2 separate regions of the Homo sapiens genome follow, and region 1 is linked to region 2. Evidence: fine-mapped expression QTL. A gene starts in region 2. The other region holds a variant in brackets. All regions are shown on one strand. Distances are from middle to middle.

Region 1 (13,537 bases), 600 kb before region 2:
TCTCATCTTTCCTTTGGGTTTCAGAAGAATCCCCAACCCTTACTGGGTACAGTAACAAGCAAGGCTTCATTTCTTTAGTCCCGCCTGGTTAAACTTACGGATCCAGACTCAACGCTGGACATGAAGACATTCTAAAGAGATTCAGGTCATTTACTTAAAATTTTCTTCTTATTCAGAGTAAGTAGATGACTCAATAGTAGGTGACTCAATTGGGGCTTGAGAAGTTGATACATACATCACACTGGGTAAAGTCCTCACTCAATTCCAGCAACACTGCTATTGCACAAGCGTTTTGCACACCGCCCCCCCCCCCCCACCCCCCAACACATCCCATTCTGCCACCTGGAGTATTTCCTTCCTGAATTATCCTTAACGGTGGTGAATCTTGATACTCTGAGAGGTGCTTCAGTTTTTGGACAATCACAATTGGTGGCTGTGAGGATTCAAGCTACATAATGATTTTTCTTTTCTGATATGGAATATTTAGAAGATAATGAGACAAGTTTTTTAATGCATGGTGTGATGAATTGCTTGAAAGGAGAATTCACAGGATAAATTCCCAAAAAGTTTTTGAGTAATGTCAGCATAATTGAGGTCGGTTCAAGATACCCAGGTGACTATGAAAGGACACTCCTGATTCAAAAAAGTTGGAAGAAGGATTTGCTTAAAAATAAAAATCTCTAAACCGAAAACATTTGGCATGTCATACACTTGATAGGACAATTTTCTATGCATATAAACTGCAGTCTAGTCTAAATAAGCAGTTTTTTTTTTTCTTTTTTTGAAACTAGGTCTTGCTCTGTTGCCTGACTGCAGTGCAGTGGTTCAATTATGGCTCACTGAAGCCTTGTATTCCTGGGCTCAAGCGAGTCTCCTGCCTTAGCCTCCTGAGTAGTTGGGACTAGAGACATGTGTCACCACACCCAGCTAATTTTAAAAATTTTTTGTAGAGATGGGGTCTTGCTATGTTGCCCAGGCTGATCTTGAACTCCTGGGCTCAAGTGATCCTCCAGCCTCCTGAAGTGCCGGGATCACAGGCAGGAGCCACTGCATTTGGCTGCATTTTAAAAAAATATATTGCCCAAAGGCATACAATAGAAGGTCTACTGTTACTTACTGGAACAAAATTGAGGTGGTATAAATAAACGGACAGAGCCAATTTCCTTTAAAAATCCAGACAGGGCATGACACATGTAAGAGATATAACTTGAAAAGAAGTCAACATTGCTCCTAATCCTAATCACTGCTTGATGCTTTAAAATAAGTATCAAAATGTACAGAAATGAAAGGTCTTAAAGCTACTTTTGACAAAATAATTTCTGTAGATCAGGTTGAGCAATATAACCATGTGAGTAAAGACACAAAGCCAAAACTTCAGTTCTGTTTTCCAAAACTGCACATCTAAGCAGAAAGCGACGAGAAGTCAAGAGTTTTCAAAAAAAAGATGTGTAAGCTCTTTTCAGTCATAACCTTAACTGGGCATTTCATCTTTTGTCTAAGATCATGGTACAAACAAGGACACGTACAGAAAATTATACGTATTTATGAGTCACTATTTCATCTAAGGCTGTTTATATTAATGACACTTTTTCCTGCAGTTTGCAAAACGAAAAAGTGCAATCTGAAGATCTAAGCTTAAATATTATATTCACAACTGGTAATTATTTTTAAATTTCATCATTTCTATTTATAAAAGGCAATCTGAAGAAAATGTCTGCCTCATGCTTCGACTTCCTAAATTTTTTAAAGCATTCATGGCTAAAGATCCTTTCATATTTTATCTTCCAAGGCAGGCTGAGGCAAAGAGGGTAAGATTTTGAACATAGGTTCCCTTCAGTGCCCATGTGTCTTAATGGAAATGAAAGGATAATTTGGGCCATAATGGATATTCACAGCTCTGTAAAGTTGATGAATTAATTCTATGGTTATATTCGTTTTCTTTTAAAATGCTAATTTATCAGGAACTTAACAGAGGAAATGTATTTTTCTGTCTTTTGCTTTGGTTTTTCTCCGGTATAAAATTAAGGAATTAGCAAGGAAGGCATTTATTTCAGGCGAAGGAAGTTTTCCTTGTGTCCTATAACACATCCTTATCATATTTAGATTAATGGCATGTAAAAATAGCCTCAAATGTTTGTTATCACATGTCTCTAAATGTTTTGGATTTCAGGGATTACAAGAATTCCAGGTAGTAAAAAATGCAAAAATACAAATGACAGAGTGTACCTGTCCCCTTCTATAAGCAAGAATATTAGACACCAAGAAATCAAAAATGGGAAAGCCCAAAAATATGTGAGGGATCAATCTAATATAAGGGAGTAAATACCAGTGGAATCTTTGAGCCAGCTGCTGACCTGGGAATGAGGTAAGCCATATATGACCCCAAGCACTACTGGGGGCATCCAATAAAGAGCTATGCAATTTGACTTGTTTTTACAGCAAATAGTATTATAATGAATATAATGAAGTTCGAAATCTACTTTTCTTCCTTAGTATATCTATGAGGGACAATCTCCTTTTTTTTTTTTTTTTTTGAGACAGGGTCTTGCTCTGTTGCCCAGGCTGGAGTGCAGTGGCATGAACAGGGCTCACTGCAGCCTCAACCTCCTTGCCTCAAGCAATCGTCCCACCTCTGCCTCTGGAGTAGCTGTTGACCACAGGTGCATGCCACCATGCCTGGCTAATTCATTGAATTTTTTTTGTAGAGACAGGGTCTCGCTACGTTGCCCAGGCTGGTCTCTAACTCCTGAGCTCAAGTGATCCTCTTGCCTTAGCCTCCCAAAGTGCTGGGATTATAGGCATGAGCCACTGTGCCTGGCCGACAATCTCTTGACTTAAAACCAAAAAAAGAAAAACAAAAACCCCTGCCCCTTAATAATACATTGTGTTCTCCATTAATAACTCCTACAAACAGTGCTAGTGCTTGGATTGCACAGCTTTCTCTACTAATTGGGTTAATGAGCTATTTATCCAACCATTGAAGGCTGTGTCAAGTTTGGTCATTTCTCCAGGTTCCATCTCTGGAGATAGATCGCTGGAGATACATCTCTGCAAATATCGGCTGTGGCTGAAGACCTAACGGCATGAGGTTTGTGCAAGTAATATGGCAACCTCCACTTCTGGGCGACGGTGTTGTCTCCTTTTCTCTACATATTCCAACCAGAGAGAGATCACTTTACTGGCTGGCCCCTCCACACTGCTGATGCTGGTATAATGGGAGTCTTCCATCAGAGCATTTCAACCACAATGGCACTATTTTCCCAATCAAATACACCTAGAGATTGGACACTTTAAGAGTATCAAAACAATATAAATGTAGCTTCCTTATAGCACAACTGCATTTTATCAACAACAAACTGTTCTATGAACGTCAAGATCCAAGAATAAACAGGCCTGAGAAAGCTTACCTTCCACGTGGCCGCGTTGCGTCGGAAGTAAGCAAACATTCGTGTGAACCAGTTATAGATCTCATTTAGTGTTAGCTGCTTTTCTGGAGATTCGAGAATGGCCTGTGAAGCAGAATGTAACAGAAGATAATTTATGACCAAATCAGCAGAGTCGTCATTCCACAGTTTCTCGAAAATATAAAATCACTGTGATTCAGAGCTAAATCCTGAGAAAGGTTTTACAAAATGATCTAAGATTAATGGTTGTATTTAACAGTTCAATAGCAAAATTCAAAATGGAATTATCTAATTGTTTTGAGTTTTTATTTCTGTTTCCGTACAGAAATATTAATTTATTAGTCATTCATAAAGCAGAATCAAAGAGAAATGCAAAACATTTCACTAGCTGATTAAAGCTCAGTAATTATTTAGAGCTCAGATTAATTCTAGGGATCAGAGATTACTGTAGCTTGTGATAATTGACTTGCCATCTTTAAACAGGCTCATTTTCACTGTTGTGTGAAATGAATTTCCTAATAATCACATCGTATTGTAATACTTAATCAAAAGCAATTATGTTATATATTGCAGTTTTAAAAAACCTTATAGAAAAGGTTTCAGCATGCTTGCATACTAAACGGTTTTTAAATCTACTTCATCAATATATATCCATGTACACATATACCTTCTGACAGAATTTCATATACTGTGTTATTTACTTACCTGCCTAATTAAAGATGCATATGTAAATGGTGGTCTAACTTCTGCGTTCTTATAAAATTCTTGGTTCTGCGCAATATCTGCTGAATAAGAATCATTGTCCTATTAATTATCACTTTTTCAAAAGGGGCTGGTCTACAAGAATTGCAGATTACAACTCTACGTGAGGCAAAAGGTGGAGTATCTACCTGACGAAATGGGCACGTTGTATTTGTCTGAGTACCGCCTGCGGATGGGTCCCACCGTGTGCATGCTGGTGGTTGTGATGACAGAGGGGCCTTGGGTGACGGGAGTCAGGGGGGCGGTTGGGGTCGTTGGAGTATGAGGTAAGCTCTGTGGAGAAGCCTCCGATGCGGACTTGGAGAGAGTGACACTTGATACCAGATTCAACTGCAAGGAAAAAAACAACGTCTTAGAAGACCTTCAGAAAACCAGAGCAACCCAGGAACCACATCTAGCAGGAGTAACACAGAGGATGCGTGGGCACCGTTTCTTCCTCTATGTAGATGGTATGTTTACCATGAACCGAAACACACGGTGAGTCCTGCGTGAATTCACTTAGGATGCAGTGTAAGATATCTCTGGCAGCGGTCTCTTTTCCAAAGGCTGCTACATGGGTGTTTACAGGCTCAAAAAGGGGTTACCTACCTGAGGGAGTGTGAGAAACCCTGAGTCAAGACATTTATTTCATTGTGATGTCTCACCTATAGGCTTTGATCGCCCATCAGGCCTTGTCAACCTCAAAGAGGGAGAGAAGTCCTTAGCAATACCAGTGAAGCTGAGTATTTTAGGTGACACCAGTTGGGATACGCTGGTGTAGATCTGAAGAAGTGTCCAGCAGAATTTCTGCAATATGCTAGCACAACCAAAGAGCTGTTTTTACTTGATTTTTATTAAAATTAAACTTTAATAAATGTAAATGGAAAGAGCCCCATGTGGCTAGTAGCTACCATACTAGACAGCCCAGGAAGAGCCTACTGAGCTCCCTCATGCAGCTTCGTGGATGACGAGAACTCCTGCAAATATGTGTGGCCTATTTA[T/G]TACTCATATTAAACACAATGGGCCTGACCCCACCAGCTGTCATTTGTTTCTATCAATCAATCAATCAGTTGGCAGAAAATAATCCTTAACAGCATTATGAATAACCTTTATTAAATCTATCAAATACAGGCTTGGGATCTGTTAATTTTTTTTATTGTGACATTCTTTTACAGAATACGGGAGATCTGCAACTGAGGTTTTTGATTTTTTTCCTTCAAGTTTTGAATGTTCTATAAAATGGGAAATAATCTGCTTCAAGTTAGGAAATGAATATTACTTATTTGAAGTAGAAGAGAATAAAATAGGCCGGGCATGGTGGCTCACACCTGTAATCCCAGCACCTTGGGAGGCTGAGGTGGGAGGATCTCTTGAGGCCAGGAGTTTGAAACCAGGCTGGACAACATGGTGAAACTCTGTCTCCATTAACGCACACACATACACACACACACAAATTAGCCATGTGTGGTGGCACATGCCTGTAGTCCCAGCTACCTAGGAGGCTGAGGTGGGAAGATAGCTTGAGTCTGGGAGGCAGAGGTTGCAGTGAGCTGAGATCACCACTGCATTCCAGCCTGGGTGATAGAGTGAGACTCTACCTCAAAAAAAAAAAAAAAAAAAAAAAAAAAAAAAAAAAAAAAAAGAAAAAAATAAATTAATGAGCACTGTTTCAATTTATCTTTCTTATCTTCACCTTAAAGTACTGTTCTTACAAATACTAAAAGGCATAACCCTTCCCCAAAATTTGTTGCAACAGAAATATTATTTTACGTCTGGCAATGCTGAAGAATTTGGTTGTTTTCAGCGTATGTATTACTGTTTATGTGCTGTCTCAGATACACAGACCCACCCTAAAATCCAATAAACTTCAGCAAAGTAGGCTTACTTGGTAATATTTTCTCAAACCAGATTTCAAATCACTTACCATAGTAAGTCTATTTCACCAAGTCTAATTCACCATTGCTATAGTCAGTCTTAAGTACAAGGCAGTATTTGTGGAAGGTATTAAAAATGAGATTCCTCTGAGATCATAATCAAAGAACTTATTAAAAGAGAGTTCCAATATGTTGGGAAGACTCGACCTTTACTCACACTCTAGTTAAAAAAAAAAAAAAAGGGAGGGGGGCCTGAGAATCCTCTCTAATATGTTTCAGGAGAGTTTCATAAAAAAGCAATGAACCTGAAGAAAAGAAAGATCAAATATCATGAAGAAATACTAATGGAAAAATGTAAACATGGCGCTGGAAACAGAATGTTGTGAGCTTTGAGTTGTGCTTTCCTTTTTATTTTCAGCGTAGAATGTTGTCTCGGTGAGCAAGAGACAATGCCTGCGAAGAGCAAGCTCTGGAGATGGCACTGCCCTTACAAATGCCCCAGCAAGCTGAGCAGATGCCATGAGCGGGTTTTTCTCTATAATGTTGGAAACCTGGCTTTCTGACACACATTTGCAAACTAAGTGTGAACAGTTCAGAGTAGCAGCCGCAGGATGGGGCAGAGCTGAGAAGCCAAGGGGGGAAGAGTTGGGGCTGACCTCTTCTTCACCTCGGGCCTTAATCACTGACCAAGTCCAGGAACAGTATGTATAAGCATCAGCCCAAGCAAAGGGTCAAGGAAATTAGTGCATGAAAGGCTAATGCTCATAAATATACAGCTTTTATAATTCAGACGCTGCTAAGCCTAAGAATCTCAGAGCGCTTTGGAAAGTCATGGGTAACATTTGTAAAAATCATGTTTTAAAACCACCTGCCACTGTGTGGTCTCCTTCAATTCTCATACCACCACTAATATCTGAGATGTTATTACTCATACTTTACAGATAAGCAAACTGAGGCTTGGAGAGATTAAATAATTTGCCCATATTCCCAACCCAGACCCAAGGTCAAACCACACACTTGTATGATTCTAGATCCTTTGTATAATCATCTTATGCCTAGTTAATAGCAAAAATGAACACTAACCAGTTTCATTTTTCTGTATGCTCATTTTTGGAAAAGATTCCGTGCAGAGCATTTTATCCCTGCTTATGCATGACAATCAACACGTGTAACTGAGCAAATATAAGGCAGTTACTCCTACAATGACAAAAACAGGAAGAAAACAGCTAATTGCTGCCCTTGAAGCGCTTACCATCAAACACATACGTCAGTCAAAGGGCAAAGGTACACAGTAACCACAAAGCAGTTCTGAGGACTGACTATACTTCTCGGCTTCTCTTTTCAGTTTAAGAACTTTTCCCTAAACACTGTGGCTTTCTGAAAGATGCAATGAAAATTACAAACACAAATGTCCTTCATGCCTGCTCCCTTTCAGTTTTGGGAGGAAGATCACCAAGTTAACTGAGTTCCAGTTTCATTGTCAGAAATCAAAACTCATTCAGCAAGTGCAAGCCCATCTTTTTGGGTGTTCACAGCTACGAAGAATAGACAAATCCCACAGTAAAATGTCATCAAAATGCCGAAAGGATGTGAGCCTTGTAGCTATTACCAAGATCGCACCACTAGGACTCTTTCTACCAAAAAAAAAAAAAAAAAAAAAAAAAAAGCAACAGCGAAAAATAAAATCCCTCCAAGTTAGCACAATCCACAAAGGAAGAGATGAAGGTAGAATTTTCTGGAGGCTTTTGAACATTAGCAAGTGGGAATAAATACTGAGCCAGAAGAGAGCAGAGAGGGGGCTTACCAGGCTTGACAAATGACACCGTGATTCACACCCACTGCTGGGCTGTCTCTAATAAGCCACAGAGGAAGCAGCCAATCTCAGCTAATTACCAGATAAAAATGTATTGTAAGGACTCTAATTAGGAGACGCGGATGGAGGTGATCTAATGATTAAATGCTGCATTCGACTGACCCCACCATCAATGTGCAGTGGTGCAAGATGTCACTGGAATATTTTGTAGAAACAGTAATTTTATTTCGAGGAGGGGAGGCAGTAATATTTGTAATGATGGCTATGAGGTAAACTAATTAAAAGACAGTTCCTAGAGGAAGAGGGTGGCTGAGAGCAGCTGTGGCCATTCCAAAACCAAGTGCCAAGTCTCAATAGAGGAGCTGCAGTCAAGTGGAAAATTTCTGCCTGACCTCTGCCCTTGCTATTAATTTGCAGGAAAACTAATGACACATATACATATTCCCACAAAATTGTTCTAATTGCTAATTTGCCAAAGGAGCCCAGATTCCAAATTAAACATGACTAGCCCGTGAGGGAAGGAAGAAGAAAAAGCTGTACACTCCAAACACAGGGTGCTTTGCCACACAAAATCATTTGAAGGCTGAACCAACAAGTTAATGAAATGTCAACCTTGTCAACTGGTACAGAAGTTTCTTAACTTTTAAACTTCTGTTTGATGATCACATGCTTGTCTGGAGGAGAAACCATCTTCGAAAGGGAAGGTTGAGAGAGAAAGAATGGAGAAGAAAGACTCAAAGCAGGCTCTGTGTTCAAACCAAACCTGCTCTCTTAATTAAGGCCTCTTTGAAAAAAGAGTGCCCCCCCAAAAAAAATTAATTACAGACTTAGAACAGAAGAGCAAATGGGGAATGGTGTGTGTTTTTGCTGTAATCTTGAAATATTCATCTTAATTGTAAACTATTAAATCTTAATGTAATCATCAATTAGAAATGAAAGCATATGTGCTTTGTGTTTCTGATTGCAGTTCAGGTTTTAAAAGATAATTTTTTCTGGGGCATGGGGCAGGAAGGGAATGGACTGGGAGGGTTTCTTTTCCTGATGGAAAGCCTATTTTTCTTATTGTGTTCCTTTTCTATTTAAAAGAAGTTGCTATGTTTAGAAAAGTCAGTAACTCTGATATTTTCTACATGGCAAGTTTCCATCATGTGATGATTTCAGCAAAGATAATCTCTTTGAAACTCTGGCCAAAAGTTAAATTCTTATGTCATTTAAAATTGCTGTAGGGTTTTATTTTTTAAATTTATTTGTACTCTCAGGCATCAGCTTTTCTTTTAGCCATCGAAACTATTCAAACTTGGTTGGCTACCCACTATTCTGCTTAGTCCCTTTTTTTTTTTAATTAATTAATCTTTCTTTAGTTTTTAACAGTAATCTCCCCTCCTGTTTAAAGATGATGAGTCACTCACATTAAAAAAATAAACTGCTGATGTAAACCCCTGACAGAAACAGACTTGTAAGTATTCCCATAAGAACTCATTTTTATTTTTGTTTGTGCTCTTGCCTCACATGAAAACAGATTCTGAGAACAAAAGACAAACCTGAAACCCAAACACCAAGGGACACAACTGCGTAGTAGGGACTTTCGGGCTCACAGAACTTGTTTTTCTGCTCTTGTTTTACTGGCCTGAGCCAGCTCAAGTCCTGCTTTAACTGCATGGCAGTGTCATTTCTGGGCATGAATCACTGAGTTCAGAGACGGCCTTTCTGAGGCTGGAGGGACGTTACCAGGCCGTGCGGAGGGCAGGACAATGGGTGGCAGCCTTTGTTACAAGCCTTTCCTTTCCTTTCCTTTACCATCTCAGCCTGGCCCTGTTTTAGAGAAGCGAACTCGTGGAAGGTTATGACTTACTTAGAAGGTGGTGGTACTGGCAGGGATACTAAAAGCAAAAACAAAAAAATTCTAGTTGAAAGGTTGGTGGGGGTGGGGCACTTAATGAAAAACAGTATATAAAACAGCTTTTGTGTATTGTGCCTAAGAATCCCTTTTTATGACTGCTTAATATTATTTCTCCAACTCTAAAGCAAGGACCCAGGCAGCCCAAATGATCCTTGAAGAGTTAAAAGACCCTTTCTTTTCGGGGGGGCACTTTGTTTTTATAGGAGCTAAAAACTCTTTCAAAACAGTCCTAATGGCTATGGTTAGAGGAAAAGAAAATGTATAAAAATGAAAATCTAATACTATATTTCATTACAAATATCCAAGTTCCTGTAAGTGCTTTATAAGATTTTCGTCAAGAAGAATATACCACCTACACTGTAATTACGTGCCCACCAAATCTAAAAGAATGTGGTTTCTCCAGGAGCAGAAGTTGTTCTCTGATGTGCAGGAATACCCTAAAGCAAAGCGTTCTTCTCATGTACTCAGTATTATAAAATACGATTTACAGTGTTTTCCTGACATAATGACAGAGTGTGAAAAGTCTTTTTAAGAAATCCGTAGTAATTTAATAAAGTCATCATATCACAGACATGTTTCTTTTTGTTTTTGTTTTGTCCTCTTAGTTTTTCACTCCCTCCCCCAAATGAAGTATCTTGGCAAATTCTCCACAGAGTAAGCACGGAGAAATTAACCTCCAAGCAAGACATTTGGGTGTTTACTTTGAGAATGTTTACTGAGTCTGGAACAAAAGAATATCAATCATTTTCATTAGGGCAGTTTACTATTGTTTGTTTTTGCTTTTCTTTCCATAGAAAAGAATAGAATCTTTTAAAATAACAAGAAATGTGGCCATTCTAAATGTAAGAACTGCTTTTCGGCTCTATGTACCTGAGAGCTAGAGCTTAGGGCTGCTCTGGTCAACTTACACATACTACATACGTCCACGCAGGGTCCAGTCTTTATAAAATTAAAAGTTTGAAAAGCTTGTCTTAACTGATGTTGGCTATTCCTTTTCTTCCTCTACACTGATACTCACCAATCAGAGGGACCGATCTGGGCACCCACTCTTAACCTAAGGAAAGGTTCACAAGGCTGACCTCTTACCATTTCTTCCTGCTCATCTTGTAGGTTTCAGCTTAGACATCATTTCTCCCAGCAATCTCCCCTGACTTTACCATTCTGGGTCAGCTGTTCTACTTACAGGTAGTGCAATTCACGGAAAGTGAGACTGTGTGAGTATGTATGTAGTTTATCTGTTATTTCTTTTACCAGACTCTGAACACCTCCATGGCAGGGATGGGCCTTGCTCATGTGACTGACTACTTGTCACGTATGTCACATGCTCAAGAAATATTTGTTGATGGAATAGTTTGATTTTAAATGCAGAAATTCCCTTTCCATAACCAACCTGCACCTTGAGTCTTTGGTTTTGTTCTGAAAGGAAGATTTTACTTAGGTTTAAAGAGATGTGATAGCAAGCAGGAAGAAAGGCCGTCGAAGGAGTCTGAGGGATGGGAAGCCCGTGAGCTCCTGCCCCAGTTCACCCATAAGCTTTCTTCCTCAGATCCATGTCCAAAAACTTGGGCACCTTCCCGAGATGAGCGTATCCTCTAACTATCCAAATCTGATGAGTCCCACAATAAGATCCAGAAAATGCGTCTATGAGCTGATGTAAAAACAATCTAAGAACGTTTTAGCAGTTTCTTTGATGCAATGAAATGAGGACTGGTTGGATGATTGGATACAGCAAATGACACTTAACACCCAAATGGCATTTAGTGAAAAGCAACATTTACAGCAAAGCATTCTATCACTTAGTGACTAAGAATTTTAAAATAAACACGAGGTTTCTTCTACACAGAAATGGAAAAAAGAAAAAGCTTCATGAACTTACTGGCAAGGTTGTAACATGAAAGTCCCCATCTATGGTTAGATTTGAATCCTGGTGACTGCCTGTTTCAAATTAAAGATTCTAGAAGGATACTCATTCAAACAAACGCCATGCATTCTATTATTTAGGGCGGAATAAATTAATTACAGACTGCAGGGAATATTTTGCACATGAGAATCAGTCACCAGATAGCTCTGGGCCCTTAAAGTTGAAAGCATCAAGGGTTTGCTGTATGTGTGTGCCCTTTTTTTTTTCTTTTTGGCAAAGAAGTGAAAATTTATGCAAAACATTACACGTCTACCTTTTATAATTAATTTCCCAATGCCTCACCTATACATATTTTAATAATTCCTGATTTATAAGATGGTATCTTTAATAAAATTTTCTATTTTCCAATAAATGAAAAGAAGGCAGGTTCACTCCGACAACAGAGTGTCACACAATATCTGCTTGTCAGGCACCAATTTTTACTTCTTACATGTAAGTTAAAGGATAAGGAATTTATAATGCTGCCTGTGAAGGGAACCACTTTTCATACACAAATGTGATCTTTTTTTTTTTCAAAGGGTAATACAACAGTACATTTACATAAACTAATCCAAACAATCTATGTATTTGACAATGGCAAACCTCACACAGACGGCCTATTGTTGGTTTACATCTTGGAGTTCTTTATATTGGCTTGTAGCGCTGCTCTAGCTGTCAAAGGTTTGACTTGGACTCTAAATAAATGGTTATAGAAGTGCTGTGCAGCGATATTGGACTTCTTTGCAAAAGAAAACCTGCTGTGTATGAATTCAAAAGCTATTAATTTTTCAGTCAAAAATATTCGTGCCGATTTCTTCTAATAAAGAAATACTGTGCTGAGCTACTAAGAGATAATGTTGACTAGTGGTAGAGAATTTTCAATAGAGCAGTTAAAAATAAATTTAGTAGGAGGTCCCCTTCAAAGTTACAATTTTCTAGAAAGTAAAACATTTTTTTTTAATACTAATCAAGACAAACCTTCCATCCCTGTTCACTTCCCCCCATGCTTTTCCCTGTTTACCAGCTGCTTAACACTGGTCCACGTGAAGAATCCCAATGGTCCTTTTGTGGCCCACAGGGGCTTACACACATGGTGCTCTCTGCCAACACCCAGCCCGGTCACTCGCCAAGCGCCCTACGGGGTTTTGTAGTTCCTTATCTTTAATTGTATCCTTCCTCTTCCCAAGAAGCCCCAAGATCCAGGCCTACAGTGCTGGGTCCAACCATTATCCTATCACTGTTTTTAATCCGTGGAGGAAGACAGAGATAATCTCATTCTCTCGCTTGCTGCTAGGTGCAAAGATTTGAACCCTTCAATCTGGGAAAACCATTTCACTAAAGCCATCTGAAGACTTTCAAAAAGTTCCAAGGCAGTGAATGCCCTGTGCAATTGGCTATGCTTCTTCGAGATGACTTCAGCCAAGTTGTCTCAGAGGCTCACCATTTTGCTTAGCTGGGTTCTAGAAGGAGGGGTTGCTAGAAATAGCACAGCTGACTACTGATGCCACAACAGTGAATGACCTGGTTCTTTTTTTTCCTTTCTTTTTGGTAGCCTACACATCTAGTCCTATAGCCATTTACTGTAAAATAATACACGGAAACTAAGGACTCCTTCCTGGTAAAAATGGATGCACGAAGTGTTTAATAATTTTATGTCCTTTATCTCAGTAATGTGTTCTGTTTCAGACATTAATTTTGCCTGCCAACTGCATCTTGGCAGGCTACCATATTTGCTGGGTTAATAGTCTGACTCCGTTTTATTTCTATCACCATAAATCATACATATATGGGTGTATGTTTGCTTTATTTATAGAAAAAAATCAGTCAAAACAGATAAACCAATACTTTGCCATTACGCTGCATCATTGCATATTGATTAAAATCGCTGGTACTAACTATAGATTG
Region 2 (16,971 bases):
TGAACCAGGCTGAATTAGGACCAACTGCAACCTCCCTTCACTTCAGACATGAGCATTCACTTCCATCTCTGTGCTCACCCCCAGGAGGGGAAGCCACCAGTGCCACTGGTCATCAGGAGGTAGGCACCAGGGCAAAAGAAACTCAAGCAAAACTCACATCACACCCTCCCCCAACAAAAGCTGCGGTCACTGTCCTGAGAGCACCAAGAATATCTTTTAAAAATGTGAGTAATAACAAAGCCCTGTATCATTGGATCCCTAAGCTCAAAGAACATATGTTAAAATATTACCCCTAATTCAAAAGCAGGGAACCTGGAGCAGAGAAAGTCACATTATGACTCAATTGCACAGCTGGGAGGGAGAAAGGACACCTCGGAAATTCAGTTTGATGCTAGAAATATTCTTCAGTGTCCTAGTAAACAAAGTGAATCACAAAATTAGCTAAAATCAGAGCATCTGGTAAAATGTGGATGTCCACCTGACTTACAAGTAATAAATAAATATATGTCCAAACATAAAACTCAGAGAAAATGTTTGTCCTAAGCAAATCTATTCTATTGAACATAAACAAGGCCCAATAATCCCACATTCAGATCCATTTTTCCCTCAGTAAATTGTCCTATAACATGCTAGCCTCTGATATCTTCAAACTGTTGAAATCAAACAGAATGACATGGGCTTTCTATTCAATGATCCCATTTCAGCTATTTATCTGAATTAGCAGCAGTTTGAGGAAATACACTCATCACAACATGATTCTGAGTATAGAGAAGTAAATAGTAAACAGAACACTGGAACACAACTGTGTATGTATTCATATTCCTTTTTAAAAAAAAAACTATTTTATTAAAAATACAATTTGGAAGGAAAGTGCAATTAGCTTTGCACAGGCACTGCTGAGATGTTCCCGAACACAGCAGACATATGTAAATATTTCGTGATATCAGTTCCATTTGAGTAGACCTGTCAAGATATTTACAGGGCTTGACAGTACTTCTGTCTTTAATTAAATTTTTGCCCAGATACTTTAATATAATTTAAATAGATTATTAGTTGTCAGAATCGAATATAAATTTTGTTTACGATTTAGTTACTTTAAGTACTCAGACTGAAGGAACTAATTTAACCCTACAACTGAGCAGCTTTAAGCATCAAGGCCAAACCACTAGAAAGCTCCCACTGCCCTTTGCACTCTACCAATAACCTTAAATTATTACAACTGAATTGTAAATTTCATGGCACTAAACTGAGCCCCCCTCCCCTCCTTTTGAAATAAAACAGCTTGGGGAGGGTCATGAGGAAACACCCATTTACACCTGTTCAGGTACTAGGTAGGTTCTCCCTTTCAGGCACTCGTTCTCACAGCGGCTGGCTAGATAGGAAACATTTTTTTCTCACTCTAAGTCCCATAAAATAACTACCGAACAAACACCTGTTGTGTACAAGGCAGGGCATGTATTAAAGACTGGCATCAGGGCATTGCAAAAAGAAAAACAAGCCTTGCAGAGACATCCACAAGCCAATCTGGTCAATAGATTTCACGACTGGGTAAAACAACAGTGCGTGCGAAGAACACAGCTTCTGGCACAACCTTCTTGTGAATGGCAGCTGACTTCTAAACAAGGATTGAAAAATGCCTTAGCACAAACTGACTGTAATTAATAAGAATAATTTATTAAAGAAACAAAGAACACTGTCTAATTGTCTTTCCTGACTGCCATGCACTTTCCCCCATTGTACTTCCTCTTTGCAGAATACCAGCCTCGTAGCCCTAACTGTAAGAACATTATCTATGGGATGCAAAACCAAAACACTTCTAGAAATCAAATATTCCTTACAACATTTATTTTTAGGTTAGCGACACAAGCCAAATCTGCTTAATTTCCATTAAGCACATGGTCACATGCTCATTGAAATAAACTACAAACGTCCCAGGAAAAAAAAAAAAGGAAAAAAACTATCATGCAGAAGATACCCCAAATTTCGCCAGGTTTGCCCGTTTCAGGAACTTGCCTCATCTCAAGGCCTGCTGGCATTCCAGCTTTTGGAGCCTTTATCCTTAATTCATCCAAGTACCGGAGAAGAGAAATATGTTGAAAAATCAGTTTAAGATGGTTCCTTGGATAGCATATGTATAGCAAAGTGGCCTGCAGAGTAGAGTAACAAATGACAAGAAAGATCATTAAAAAAATGCATGGGCCCAAGTGCAAACCTACTTGGCTTGCTGGCTTGTCTCACAAACTCAATGTTTGATCACCTGGTGGGACTAACTACCATCAACTTAAAAAAAAAAAATCCCCTGCAAATAGTAAAAGTATACATTGGCTCAGGTATAAAGTTCACCTGTCTATTCAGCAGATGCCTTTCTTGAGGTTATTTTCTTTAGAAAACAAACCCCTACCTGCTTGAGAGGTTTATATACTCTAGATTCAAAAAAACACATTTAAAAAGAAAAAAAGAAGGCCAATATTGCTGGTATAGCAAAAATGGCATTTACTATGACTGAAATCTATAAAAGAAGTGTGACATCTGACAGGATAAGGAAGAAAGGAAAAGCCCTTAGCAAAAAGAAAAAAAAAATTAAAAACAAAAATACCACCTGTGTAAATCTAGCCATGCTCTGGAAACCCTTTCTCGGTCGTGGAGAAGAAACAGCTCATGCTGAATGCCTTGAAGTTGCAATTAAATTGTAGTAATTTAAGATTATCGGGAGAGCAAAGGGCAGTAGGAGCTCTTCAGAGGGTTTCCCTCCCCACTTAATGCTCTTCAGTCACGGGTTAAATGAGTTTCTTTAATGTAAGTACCTTAAAGTAACAGAATCATAAACAAAATTTATACTATGTTCTGACAGCCTGCAATCTACTTCGGTTTTATTAACGTATACCTAAAATTATTTTTAAAGGACAAAATTCTTGCTATACCCTGTAAATATTCTTGGCATTCCCACTGAAATGTGATAGGTACTGTAACACCTAACCTTGTCTAAATATACATACTTTTTGAGATGTGGAATCTTACAAGATAGTGTTTCAAAACTGAGTTTGAGTCATAAGTAAAACATGAAAATCAAATAAATATGCACAATAAGATTGGCTGCAAAGAGGAAGCTGGGTTCAAAAGAAGTTGTCACATCTGCTATATTCCTTCTCTTTCTTAATTTTGGCACTGGACCCCCTGCAATATAAATATATTTGAAAAATATCACAATTCTTCTGTTAATTTAAACAACTGCTGAAAACAGACATACCCTTCAACAGAGCCTAAGATGCAAATTTACAAGGCCAGGGGTATAGTCTTTAAAAAGGCAAAGAAAAACTCAGTAACAGAAAACCATGCCTAGGCTCAATATTAACTCAGTTAACTTTTGCTATTATAAGTATAAATGGTTTAACTAGAAAATATTTATAGCGTTTTCAAAACATTACATATTGCAGAAAATTGCCTAATAGCATCCATGTGTATGTTTAACCCACATTGCTTAATTATACAATAAAGGTATATCTAGTAAAAACTACAGACTTTGAAACATGTTGTGCACCATGGTTATGAAACTCTGGCTTACAAAAAATATATAAACTGCTTACTATGTGACCGACACTTGTTAATTAAAAATATAATCCTTAAATGACAATTATTTTTATTCTTCTGTATGTGTTTACTTATCCTGTTTCCTACTTTGTTCTACTTAATTTAAAATAACATTTAATTTGGGGATAGTTTATCCCAGAAAAAAAAAAGTGTTACACAGTTTATACTCCACGATTTAAATATAAACACAAAATCTTAGACATCTCCAGCAATATAAACCCCTTATCTGAGACAGTTAATTTGAATAGTTGATGTTTCTTTCATTATACTTTGATAAACCTGTGAAAACAAAATGCTACAGTAATTACTGTTACTACTCCCTTTAAAAATGTAAAGTAGTTAAATTTTCCTAGACAACAAGCAAGGACAAGTTACAGAGAACTTGAATAAAAGTAGCAACGTGGTCATGTTGAATGTCAATCTAAAAAAAGAGGTTGTCTAATCTGGAGACTGCTCTCTCTCGCCTTTTTAAATTCCAAGAGTGGGCTGACACAAAACTTCATCACCAGAGATTTTTTTTTTCTTTTTTTTCTTTTTTCTTTTTTTTTTTTTTTTTGAGCTTCACATCAGATTTAAACTCTCACATACAAAACCTTGGCTTCCCTGACAAGGCAGATCTTCTAAACTCAATGTGAGAAAACGTTATCTAACTCTAGTGTAGGAGTCTAATGTTGGTAAAAAGAATTCCATTGCACAGTTCTTGGTAGCAAGACAGTCTCTGGACGACTTAATATTCCTTTAATACATTTTTGGGTAGCATTCTCCTCATAAAGAAGGATACATTAAAAAAAATAACTTGTTTCGCGACTCGGCATCCATAAGGAACTCAAATGCTGCCCAGAGAGGGGCTGAGTATTTCCTTCCAAGTGAGCCTTCGCTTGCACAACAAAGATTAGCATCTGCAATGGTCCATTTCTGCATAAGTGAACATATAGCCTTGCTGCTTGATCGAATAGTCCAGGGTTCTCCGTGTAGCAGCTCCTGACAACCACCCAGCAGCAGTTCTGTTTGATCTCTCCTGCTTCCTTAATTTGGGTTGTCAAGGTTCAGCAGTTGGAGGCTGTTTACTTTACTTTTCCAAAAAAAAAAAAAAAGTGATTTTTTTTTTCTCCCTCTCTCTCATACAATGACTAATCCAAAGTCTAAGGGGGGTGGGGGATGCAGCCAGTGGCAAGATGTTAAACCTTTTTTTTTCCCTTTGCAGTGAGATTTTAGCTGACACCTTTTGAATGGTAACTAGTTGAGTTCCTTTTTTATATTTTTCTTGCTCTTTAATTGTGAGACGTTTCAAATAGAAAGACAGAGGGGGGAAAAAAACAGTCCAAATTTCTGAAACTGTGAGCTGAGTTTTCTTTTCCTGGACCCAAAGGGATGGGTATTTCCACTTTGAGAATCAAAACTCCAGTGGAATTCTAAAAAAGATTTGATACATTTCTCTCTGGAACAGAAAAATAGCAGGAACTCCTCTTTCTCAATTATGTAGGCTATCCCTGGGTAGAAAACACCTGAAGTCTTACTATTTCTTTAAAAATTCTAGTTTACACATCTCCCTCCAAATTGATTCTTGCTGTGGAAAACGGGGGTGGGGGAAAGGGGATGGAATGGAAAAATTTTGCAGCGATTCTTCAATATATTTTCAGTAGCAGAAAAATTCCTTTAAATATCCTTGAGGTCTTCTCAACTCAGCTATTGTCCAAGCCCTAAACCCTTAAGTCTACGTACAACCAATGGTGAAGTGTAGACGGTTTGAATGTACAGATGCCTTTCAAAGGGAATCCAGAATGCTCCTCCGGCATTCCTGTTTAAAGAGCAGTGACAAAAAAGAAAATGCTAACTTGGAAAATACCTGTGAGCAGACATGAGCGCAATTCCAGCCCCTCAGAAGTGGACTGCATAAGGTCAAATGCAACCAAATGAAATGTTTATATTAATTTCATTATTCTGCCCAAGCCTCACAGATGAGGGCTTGTGGGGTGGGGAGGTAGGGAAGAGGAAGAAATAAGTTTCATTTTGGGTCTTCTGGTAGAGCAAAAAGAAAATGAATTAAGACGAAAGCATAGGATGAGCCCAGACTAAATCAATACACTTTGTAATCAGCCCAGCAAGGGTATTTGGATACAATGACTTGGAAATAATTAATAGTTATAAGAGGGGAGTGGGGTGAGAAGGGGGGCGAGGATGTCACCATATTTTATCGGAGCACTTTACACTCCACGCTAAACTTTGATCTCCAGATTTTCAGATTTAGGAAAGAAAGAGGGGAAAAGGGTGGAGGGGAGGAAGTCCAGTATTTCGAAGCACCTACCGGCCTGAGGATGGGCACATTCCTCGCTCCCGGTGCCTTATCGCTAGGCTCGCGCCACCCCGGCTGGCTCTTTGGGGACGGAGAACCCCTAGTGCCGCCTGGGGCTCTCCGGTGTCCCTGGACCCCGCGCCCGCGGCCGCCTCGACTTACCCGCGGAGTCCGGGGAGGGAGTAGGAGCGCCGCCTTCACGCCCGCGGAGGAGGCGCCGGCAGCACCATGGTCCCCGGCGCCGCTGCCGCTGCCCCCGGCCCGCTCGCTCGCTCGCCGCGCGCTCTCTTCCTCTTACAAACTTTCGGGTTCTGCAGTCGACAAGAAACCGGGGCGACCCTCAGCAAGTCTTCCCCGTGCAGGCTGGGGGGAACTGAAGGGGACGGGACGGGTGAGTAGGCCGAGGGGCCAGGACAGAGAGGGCAGCGGGCTCCGAGGACCCGCGAGTGCGCGTGGAGGGAAGAGAGGATGCGGCTCAGGGAATCCCTGCAAGGATCCAGAGACCGGGAAATCGGCCCGAGCCAAAGTCTCAGCACCTTCCCCAGGATCTCACAAAGTTGCAACAACAAAAAGGAGGGGGGAGGAATAGGGAGAAGGGGGTGGGATGGGGATACGATCACGGGCGCAAGGTTTGGAGTTACAACTGTTTATTTAGTCCTTATTCTCACAGGGGGCGGGAGCTGCGCGGGAATGGGGGGCTGCAGGCAGCGATTTCGAAGCAAACACATGGGAGGGGGGCATGCGACTTTGTTTCCGGGAGCGGAGCTCCCCAGAGCCCGTGTGTGTCACTGCCAGTCTCCCGGGACCAAGGCGGAGCTCACAACAGGTGGGGAGGGGGGCTCGTCGAGGGCCAAAAAGAAGAAGGAATCTAAGTTTCCGAGCGCGACGTTGTCTGAAAAGGAGGGAGGCGGGAGGCGGGGGCGAGGGAAGGCGGAGGCAGCAAATGACCGCGACCCCGCGGCAACTGGCAAACTCCTCGGCTCCCGGCGCCGCCGCCACCGCCGTGGTCCCCACTCGAAGCGCACGCCGCCTCGGCTCGCTGGCTCCAGGGAGTCGTCTCGGCGGGACAGGAATAGAGCGCAGGGAGCTCGGGAGGAAGGCTGCGCGCAAGCGAGGGACGGAGAGCCATCGGCCGCCAGGACAGGGCCGGAGGGACGAGGCGACACGCGCGCGACGCAGGACAAATCGGAGCTTGGGAAATCTCCCCGTCCCCCAAGCTTCAGAGGGGGGTAAAATCAGAAAATGTGTGTGATGGTGGGAGAGAGATCCGGGCGCGGCGACTCCTCGCAGCGCATCCGGCTCCCGCACCCACCCGTGGATCTGGCCACGGCTGTTGCGGACTCGTCTCGGGAAAGCGGAGGCCGAGCGCGCGTAGGGGTGCGTGTCTGGCTGGGGGTGCGCAGGTGCGTGTTTGAATTTTCCGGGCTCCGAGGGGGTGGCGGGAGAGCTTCCTCGCCGCTGACTCTCGGGGTAACGCGCGCGTGGCAGCGGGGAAGTTCCCCAGTGCGGGGCCCAGGGCCAGGCACCACAGTCAGTTTGCTGGGGCCCGCGGGGCAGCTCAAGGGCACCGAGGGGGCACACACCCGCGGGGAAAGAAGGGGAAAAGTTTGCTCCAAGTCTAAACTTTGGGCCTAGGAGGCGCCCGGCGCGCGCCCCCTCCCGCCGCGGCCAGGACCCGGGACCCCGCACCGGCCCCGCGCCCGGGCGGCCACCGGACGCCAACGCCGGACATCGAAAGTTGCGCCAGGCGGCCTGGGCTTATTGATTTCTCTCCCCTAGGCGATCGTGGAGAGCGCAGAGAGAGGCGTGAAGGGGCCTACGGGCAGGCGATCTCGCCTCCTCACAGTCGCCACCGCCCCCGCCCCCATTTGACTTATGCAAATAAACCCAAAGGGTGCGGGCGCCGCCGGAGCTCCCTCCACCCGCGCGCCGGCCCGCAGCCCCCACCCATCCCAGAGCTGGGCCTCGACCCGGGGGGGAGAGGAAGAGAGGGGAGGGCTGGGGGAGATGCACGTGGAGCCTGGAGGTGGAAAGTAGTTGTTTTTTTTTTTCCATTTTTTTTCTCTTTTTCTTTCTTTCTTTTTTTTTTTTTGTGCTGGTTGTTGTTGTTGTTTAAAGTGGCGGAAACAAGACAGGAGGCGGCTTGGGAAAAAGTGGAGCAGAAATGGAAAAATACAAACTCACCCGCTGCAAATGGTCTCTCGGTGCAAACTAAGGTGTTTTCGGGCCTTTCCCCGCGCGCGCCCACTCCCGCCCGCGCGCGCACCCCGCGCACACACTCACTCGCGCACACACGCGCGCACACACGCACTCCCGGGCGAGGGCCGGGCCGCCGCGAGTACAGCGTGCAACCGCCACACAATAAATAACAATAGATTCCTCCGCTCCGGACTAGCTTCCCGGAGCCCAGCCAGCGCCGGTGGCGGCGGCGGCGGCGGCAGAGGCGCGGGCAGCACCGGCCCGGGGGCGCACCCCGGCCCGACCCTCTACCTCCCGCAGGGGTCCCCTCTCCGCTTCACGCACCCCGCTGGGCACTCCAGCGGCCCCCCGAGCGGGAGCGGCTCCCTCTTTGCCGTTCGCCGGGGCGCTGGCGCCCACCCCCCTCCTCCCTCCCCCCTCCCCCCCGACATCCCGGAACAAATAAATAAATAAGGCGCGCGAGAGAGGCCAACACGTCGCGGAGGGAGATGTTGTTATTTTTTGCTGTTGTGCGTCCCTGACGTCACATCCACCTGCTGGGTAAACAACCGGGCTCCCAGAAAAAAAAAATCGCAATTGCCAAAGAATGGGGGGGGGGGTTGGGGGGAGGGATCCAGGGAGGGGGAAGTGAGGGGCGTCCAGGCAGGATTGGAAAGAGGAGAGGGAGGCAGAGCCCCGCGGACCAGAGAGAGGAAGGGAACGCCAGAGCAGTCCCTGGCAACAGAGGGATCTGGCAGGAAAGACCTGGAAAATAAGGGGCAGGGGGGCGGAGGGGGAGATTCCTCAGGAGATGGGAAATGGGGGGCCCATTCAGACAGCGGAAAAAACGAGAAGGGAGAGTGTTAACTAGGGACGAAGATGGGAATGCGATGGCTATTTGCTTGGATTCTGAGCTAAAAATATGAAAGGGAGGGGAGAGGACAGGCTAGAATGTGAGTTTCCTCCAGTTAAAAGTGAAAGTGTTTTGCCATCAGTGACAGTTGAAGGAGAGCGGGGTGGGAGGTGGTGTTTTCAACCCCCTTTCTCCCTCTCTCCCGTCCTCCCTCGGTCTCTCCTCTTTCTTTCTGCACTTTGTCCAATGAAAGAAGGCGAGTTCGGGAGGTGAAAGTTCAGCAGAAGGACAAACCCCTGTTTGCAAGGAAACAGAAACCCCGCCAGCCAGCGAGGGGTTTTCTCCCCTGTTTCTCGGAATCAGGAGAGTGTGAATGTGGGACGAGCTTCTGCCCCCTTGTCAGAGCCACTGCAGGAATGTGCAATCGAGTCCACTTTGGGGGAAGGTGGCTGCATCAGGAACTGTGTTCTTGCCACGACTCCTCTTAGGAAAACGCCTGGGGGCTAGCATGTCAGTCCGTTGTTTAACACAAATTACCTGCTCTCCCAGTGATCAGTCACGTGCAAAAAGCTTTGTCCAATTCTTTGAAAAGGTGAGATTTTTTTTTTTCTTTTTGCGGTTTTTGAAGTTTGGTTGAATTTAGAAATTCGAAGGAATAAACTAAGAGCCTGAATTAAATGTTTTGAAATATACATACATAAAACAAAAGACACTAGTATTTCTTTCACTTTTATCAATACGCATAGAGAAGGAAGCAGAGTATGTGTTTCCAAAACGTGACTTGGAAAGCTGTAAGACCTCTATGTCTTGTTGTTGTTGTTGTTGTTGTTGTTAACAGAAGTAAATTTTTTCAGACCCACCACCACAGAAGTGGCCAGACTCCCAAACCAGCATTTCCAGCTACTGGCTGGCTGGTGTACACCAGGCCAATTCTTTATGAGAATATATTAAAAGTCACCCCTGTGGATTCCTACAAAGTACTTCCCCTTGCGGGGAGGGGAGAGGCTTACTGTCCCTTTGGTCTTGAGACCAGCACAGTTGTAGATAATATCCTGAAAAGGTTATTATTAAATTCTTTCGCGTAATGCCCCTTTACAAATATTGTTAAACATTAATTTACAGAAGAACTTAAATCTTAATTTCAAGGGTGGCATAAGACTATCGCTTTGAAATTGTATCTTTCGCAAGTTAAAAAAAAAAAATAACAAAGCCATTCGCTGATGCTACAGAATAAAAGAAAGGGAGGCTGCTAAGGTAATTTCAGCCTGGTAGAATTCACATTGCATGCATGCTGCATAAAGTTCCATGCTATCCAGATAAGACTATTCACTGAATCTTTTAGACTAGAATCTAGACCAATAAAATGCATTTTAGTTTGTATGGAATGTCCTAGCTTCCTAGAGGCTAGGGTTCGACGTCTTGTTTGTCAAGACATAAAGGGATTAATGACATACCCACTGTGTGCTAGACCACAGAGTGGGCACAGAGGGATGAAAAAATAAAAATTCCTGCCCTTGAGGAGCTCACAGTCTAAGCTGTCAATAATAACATCTAACATTTATTAAATACTATGATCTAGGCACTGAACTAAAAGCTTTATGTCAACTCAGTTAATACTGCCAACAACTCTTTGACATCACTGGAAATTCCATATGCTGAATTCACACGGAATTAAGTGGAAATCTACAAAGTAGCCAGTCTACTGGTTCTGTAGTGGTCAACCTATTAAAAATGGTTTTTAATTTCTAAAGTACTTTATGCCAAATATAACATGTTTATGGTATATGCCTGACTGTAGAATTATAACTCAGGGGAATAACGACTTATTTAAATGTAACAGATCTATTCATAGTCTGTAAAGAACAATTCATCCTCTGATCTTGTTTTTCAGATTAAGCAGTGTGTTTATTAAAAATTATTATCATCGCAATACTAAAAAGATCTTTAGATTGCTGCTAATCTGATTCTGCATTTTAACTGCCTTAAATTCTACATTCACTTGCAAGTGGGGGCCACAGTCAGGTTGGCAACAAGTTTTGCAGACAAAAGGAAATCCTGGTTGTAAATCCCATGATATATTGTACTCAATTTTGTATGATACTGTCTAATGTGCTGTGCTGCCTTATTAAAGAACTCGATGTCCATTTGGTTTACATTAGAGGGAAACTTAACTGCAGCTTAACATATTGTTCATTTTCAACACTGTCACGTTACATTCGTGGGGGGCAGATTTTAATTTCTTTATCAGTAATCAACTGGAAGTTTCTTTTTGTTAAATTAAAGCAAGAAAGGTTTTAAAATAAAGGGCATGGGGGTAGGACGCCACCTTTTGGTGATAAAACAAATAGAAATCCCTTCTGAAAACAGATGTTCCTGACATAATTTTATTTTTAATTACACCAAGGCAAAGGTGCTTGTCCCCATTTCGTTATATTTTAAGTAACAGGAGAAAAAAAAAACCAATGTAAATGCAAAATTAGCAAATTATAGTTAACTGCAGCCAAAATTTTCCCAAACGTATCAGAATATGTTAGTCCCCTGTCACATTACTGTTGATTGTATACACCAAACATGAGCTTCATTCACCAAATACCATGTCACTAAATATATGTACATTTGGGGAACAGAAACTGGAGTGGACATTTACCACCTGACGACGTACCTGAATGCTCTTGTAAGTTTTGAGTTGAACAAAAACTAAAACCACTTAATTTAGTGTTTCTTTAACCACAGTTACTGGTGTCCTGATTTTTGCCATATCTATATGACATAACAGTTCCCGAATAATTAATATACCATACTCATTGGAGGCCACTTATTATGGTAATTGTAGCAAACATTTTCATTTAAATCAACCTTCTTTTAATTTTTTTCTATTACTGCCTTAAATGGGAAATCAGTATCACCCACCATAAATTAAAAACAAGCACAGTAAAAACAAAGTCACTGATTTCTCTTTGAGGGTCAAAACAAAAATTAAAAATGATTTTTGAAAAAAGGAGGGAGAGTGGCAAATGTTGAGAAGGGTTAAGGACAAGAGTATCAATGGAAATTTTTGAATTTTTGTTTTTTCTCTCTCTTTTTTTCTGTTTTTTTTTTTTTTTTTTTTTTAACAACCAGAAGGATTTAAAGTGATCGGAAAGGAATACAGTTCTCAATGTGTGATTCAGTGTTATGCCATCCTAGTGCCAAGGTTCCTACACTTTAAAAAACATGGGCATAACTAAGAATATCGCATTACAGATGAGGAATCTAAGGCCCAGGGATTTCATTTGCCCTCCAAGGCAAAATAAATTTGGTTACTGGTTGGACAAGGATTAGAATCCAGGTGTCCTGACTTTGTGGGTTTCCATCTCACTCTTTCCACTAAAGTGACCAATCCTCAGACTTAAGTGGTTTGTCTAGCTTCTCAGAAACAGCTAACCTACAGACCCCTTTACAGATCTGGGAGAAACTGAGGCCACAGAGGGTCAAGAACAAGTTCAACCCCCTGCTCACCGTCCTTTCTCTCCACCCTCTCTCCATAGATGTGACAGACATCCAGGTGGGGGTCAACACAGCAAAGAAAGAAGGGAGGGTTGAGAAGAGAAAAGTGGATTCAGAGAGGGGAGGTTAGTAAGCGTGGGCAGACCATTCTCTAAATGAAAGCTTAAACTCAGTTGCCTTCCAAGAAGATAAAAATGGCTAATGAAAATCATGTGCTTCACAGTAAGTGGTAAGAGGAGCCCATCCTCTGTGTCCTCATGTCCCTATATGTCCACACCGGAAATCAGCAGGGGATCTCTTGTTTTAAAGTATACAATATTAACAGGCACACTCTGAGACAAAACCACATTTGATAATTTGAGTGGGTGGAAAAGCTAGTCAGGGAACGGGGAATGACCCTAGCTTAAAAAGTGTTTTCCCCCACAACAAAACTTAAGAGGCTCAGAGTTAAATCTAGAAACAATAGTGCTTTTTCTGTTTTTCTAACTGGAGAGTGAGACCTTAGTTACCAAGACTGCACTTGCTGCTTTTTTTTAAAGTATGCAGTTATATAAACATAAATAAATATGGCCTGCAAATATTTTTATGTTTTTCTAAATTGGTGATTGTGAAAAGAGGTTGTGCATGACTGTACTGTATGAACATGGGTCTCAGTGGACTGTAATCCTCATAAACTACAAGGTACGGTGAAGCATTTGGCCAAGTATCATCAATCCAAAAAGCTGTTCTAATGCCCTGAGCATTCCCAGTGCAACGTTGGTACCTTGGAAACATGTAAAAGGAGTATGGGTGGCTCAACCCCATCTGCTACAGGTACTAGAACAATCTACAGCCTTACTATGCAAAATGAGATGTGCTGACCTGCAGAGCACCACCTCCAGGTTATGTCAAAAATGCAGAATGTCAGGCCCTACCTCAGACCTAGTGAATCAAATATCTGTATTTTAAAAAAATCACCCAGCCAAGTCTCACACACATTCAAGTTGGACAAAGGTGATCTATAGTACATGTGGCCCCTTATACAACAGGCTGCATCTCAATATCTTGATAGCCTTAAACTATTTCACAGGTAGTCCTGTAAGTCTGCCATACATGATTCTCCAAACTGGCATCTTTTATAAACTTTGTTGGTTCCTTATTTTTCAACCATTTGCAAAGTTAAGTCACTCAATCACCTATGCAAACCATAATTAATTCCTTTGACATTAATAGTCCGGTGACTTCTCTCTCCTGTTACCCCAAAGAGACTGCTAATTGCCCTCCAATTGTTTACCTTTGTATTGTTTTATGAGAGCTCAGAGAAAGATGGAAGATACTCTCCACCAGGCCAGAAACAAATGCCAGACAGGTTTTGAAAAGGCTGAACACATGCTATGACTACACCTTGTTAGTAGAAGGGCTTTGCTTTCTTTGTTTTGTTTTCTTTTTTTATGGAAGGGATGACGCCTCCATAATTATAGGTGCTGCTGTTTAAAACCCAGAGTGTTTTCCAAACCACTGAGGGGCCACACCTCCAGCAGCCCATGAGCCATCCTGGCTGGATTATCTTTCCAGTTCTCTAAACAGTTCATCAAGCAGTACTAGATTTACATTAAGCATAACGAGAGTAAGGGACCCCATCCAAGTATGGTTTCTTTCTGAATAAACATGAAGGACTCACAGGTAAACCTCACAGCTGAAGGTTAATTTGTATCTGTGAAGTTCTCAGAAAGACTGTAGTAAAGGCCCCTCACCCACCTAACAAGACAGCAGGTTACTTTTGTAACACCCCCCCAAAAAATAATTAAAACCATTGTTTTAATACTATCCTAAGGCAGTGTAATTAAGTCTCTGAGTGAGTAATTGTGTACCTGCATTCAAAATAAGATTTCACATGTAAAGCAAAGTTCTGATTGTAATCTCCGCGAAGTGTCTTGGCCTACATTTAGAATGCACAAGTGCCAGCTCAGCGTTACAATAGGCATTGTTCAGTAGAGCTGGAGACAAACTGTGTTTTATGAGAAGGGAAATGAGGCAGGTCTACCTACCTTCGGGAACAGTAAGGCTGTGTGTTCCAAACTATGGAAGATTTCAGGAGGGACTGAAGGATATTAAGCATGGTGGTATGTTGATGAGACATCTCAGCCATAAGCTTGGGATTTGTTGAGTTTTTTGAAGTAATGGCTATAAAATAGCTATAAAAAGAAGCTTTCTTATTTCCCCAAGATGTCCTTGAACTACTTGTAAAATTTTAAAACTATACAAAGATTAAAAATCTGATTTTCCCAAAGCTAGTATGACTCCTTTGGCCTTGGACTGGAGTTGAAGGTATTCATGGGGTCAGGTTTTACACAAACACACACACACACACACACCCATACACATGATAAATAGATATAGACATAAATCTATATGTGTACATATGTGTAAATTAGTATACATAAGTATACACACATATATTCCCTAGCTCTGTCCACTCAGAATGACTAGAAGCAATGATGATCCAATAGCAATGAGCACACCTAGCACCCAGATCTTGGTTTCTAAATACCTTTCTCCAATACAATAAATCAGGGATCCTTGAGGAGCTAGTTAATTCCAGGGTTGGGGTAGGGAAAATACAAAATAAGCACGGAGCATCTTGTGATGGAGTAAAAACCCAAAACAAAATGGGGGGCGGGGGGCAGCTCTGTAGAGGCTTACTGAAAGGCCACAGGAGGCAACCCCAGAGAGCTCCCAAATGCCCAAAGTTGAGACATCCTGAGCAAGAAAAGAAGTAACAATAGTACTGGATTATAATCCACAGAAGGAAATCTATATGAATCCATACTAACATGTATATATGTACCCACATGTATATGTGTATATATCTACATACATAAACAAATGACACCTCTTCCTTCCGGAAGATGGGTAGGGCTCAGCAATCTGCGTTTTAACAGTTTTTAACAGGTGCTGCTGCTGCCACAGCCTATAGAACTCAAATCAGGCAACTGAAATCTTGGAAGTAAGGAGGCATAGGCATAGGGGCTACAGCAAATTTGAGCACACAGGCCTCAGCTAAAAGTGGCAGGTGCTATTTGCTATTACCAGGAAAGCAAGCACAGGGCGGGAAGAGCTTTTGAGTTTTCAAGGGAGGCAAGAAATCAAAGTCTTTCTCAGTTTTAAAATTCTAAATGGGCAAATCAAAACAGAGCTGCAGCATCTGTCAAGGCCACTGTGCATTTGTACATTTGTCACTCTTTGCAGAAACTAAGTCCCATGTCAGTTTAGGATAACAGGATTTGTTTCTCAAGTGAGCAGGGTGAAAACAATCAGAAGAGATGAAAAGAAACTTAGAGGGTACTCTGACTTCCTCTTAAATTCCTTCCCAGGCATGAGTAAGTCCCCATAAGCCCCCTAAACATCCTGGGGAGGAAGGCTGGCCTACATTCTGAGTCATGGCAGCAAAGACACACATTTTCACAATACCAAAAGGTCAAAACATCACTATTTAGAAGGTGCTGTTATTTAGAAAGATTCTTTATTTCTCCCCCAGAAGAGTGAGTTCAAGGCTGGGTGCAGTGGTTCACACCTGTTATCTCGGCACTTGGGGACGCTGAGGTGGGAGGATCCCTTGAGCCCAGGAGTTTGAGACAACCCCCAGCAACATAGTGAGACCTCATTTCTACCAAAAAATTAAAAATTGGCTGAGAGTGGTGGTGCACACCTATAGTCTCAGCTACTGGGAAGGCTGAGGCAGAAGGATGGCTGGAGCCTGGGAGGTCGAGGCTGCCGTAAGCCATGATCGCACTACTGCTCTCCAGCCTGAGTAACAGAGCAAGACCTTGTCTTAAAAATAAAAATAAAACACAATTTCTTTAATTTAAAAACCTAAAAATTTTACTGGGATATTTTACTCAAGAAATTCATGCATAGGTGACCTCTAGCAACCATTATTATTACCCTCCCTCTGATCTATCCTGAAGAAAGCCAAGGAAAAGAGTTGAGTTGGTCTTTGCCTCATCTCTCTTGTGTCCACCCTTGCATACTCTTTCTGCTCAAATCAGTCCGGAGCCACATATATTAGAGTCCATACTTTCAAGGAACTTGCAGTCTAACTGGCTGAAGATACGTAGTAAATACAAAGAAGGTCATAAGATGAATACCTTAGAGGAAGCAGCAGAGGAGTAAGGAACCACATTGCAGTGGGGGCATGTCAAGACAATACAGCAAAGAGTCATTTGCAGCTGGGTCTTCCTGGAGAGCTAAGATTTTGGCACTTGGGGCTAGGATAGCCAAAGAGCACTGCAAGAGAAAGTGCAGCAGCAGCAATGATATGGAATCTACAATGCTCAGGACTGGTTCACAAACTGCTGCGCATTGGAATCAGCTGGAGGGCTTTACAAAGGTTGGCTCCCAGGCCCAGACACTGTGATTTAATTGACCCAGAGTATGATCTGGGCATCAGGACTTTTAAAAGCTTCCCAGGTGATTCTAATGTGCAGTGAAGTTTGGGAACCCTTGATCTGGGTGAGTCTGAGGACAGCAGTGCACAGTTAGCTCGGCCTGTGTGAGGGGTCTTGGAGCCCTAAGTTACCCTAAACATTGTCCT

What was found.
Region 1: its variant is fine-mapped to the expression of FOXP1 in whole blood (TOPMed, PIP above 0.99).

What each region holds. Positions count from the first base shown.
Region 1 is chr3:70,973,534-70,987,070 of GRCh38, forward strand. It overlaps FOXP1 (forkhead box P1), which reads right to left. Exons shown (of 21, transcript NM_001349338.3): 15 at 4,295-4,496; 16 at 4,110-4,189; 17 at 3,408-3,509. Among named protein-coding and RNA genes, the nearest start is that of FOXP1-AS1, 310 kb to the right of the region's middle. RefSeq lists enhancers at 2,513-3,712, 11,705-12,746. The variant T/G (reference allele first, on the strand shown) is at 5,147.
Region 2 is chr3:71,575,506-71,592,476 of GRCh38, forward strand. It overlaps FOXP1 (forkhead box P1), which reads right to left and starts at 8,223. Exons shown (of 21, transcript NM_001349338.3): 1 at 8,066-8,223; 2 at 6,044-6,192. It overlaps FOXP1-DT (FOXP1 divergent transcript), which reads left to right and starts at 9,438. Exons shown (of 1, transcript NR_182289.1): 1 at 9,438-11,904. RefSeq lists a silencer at 8,096-8,335 and an enhancer at 8,413-8,707.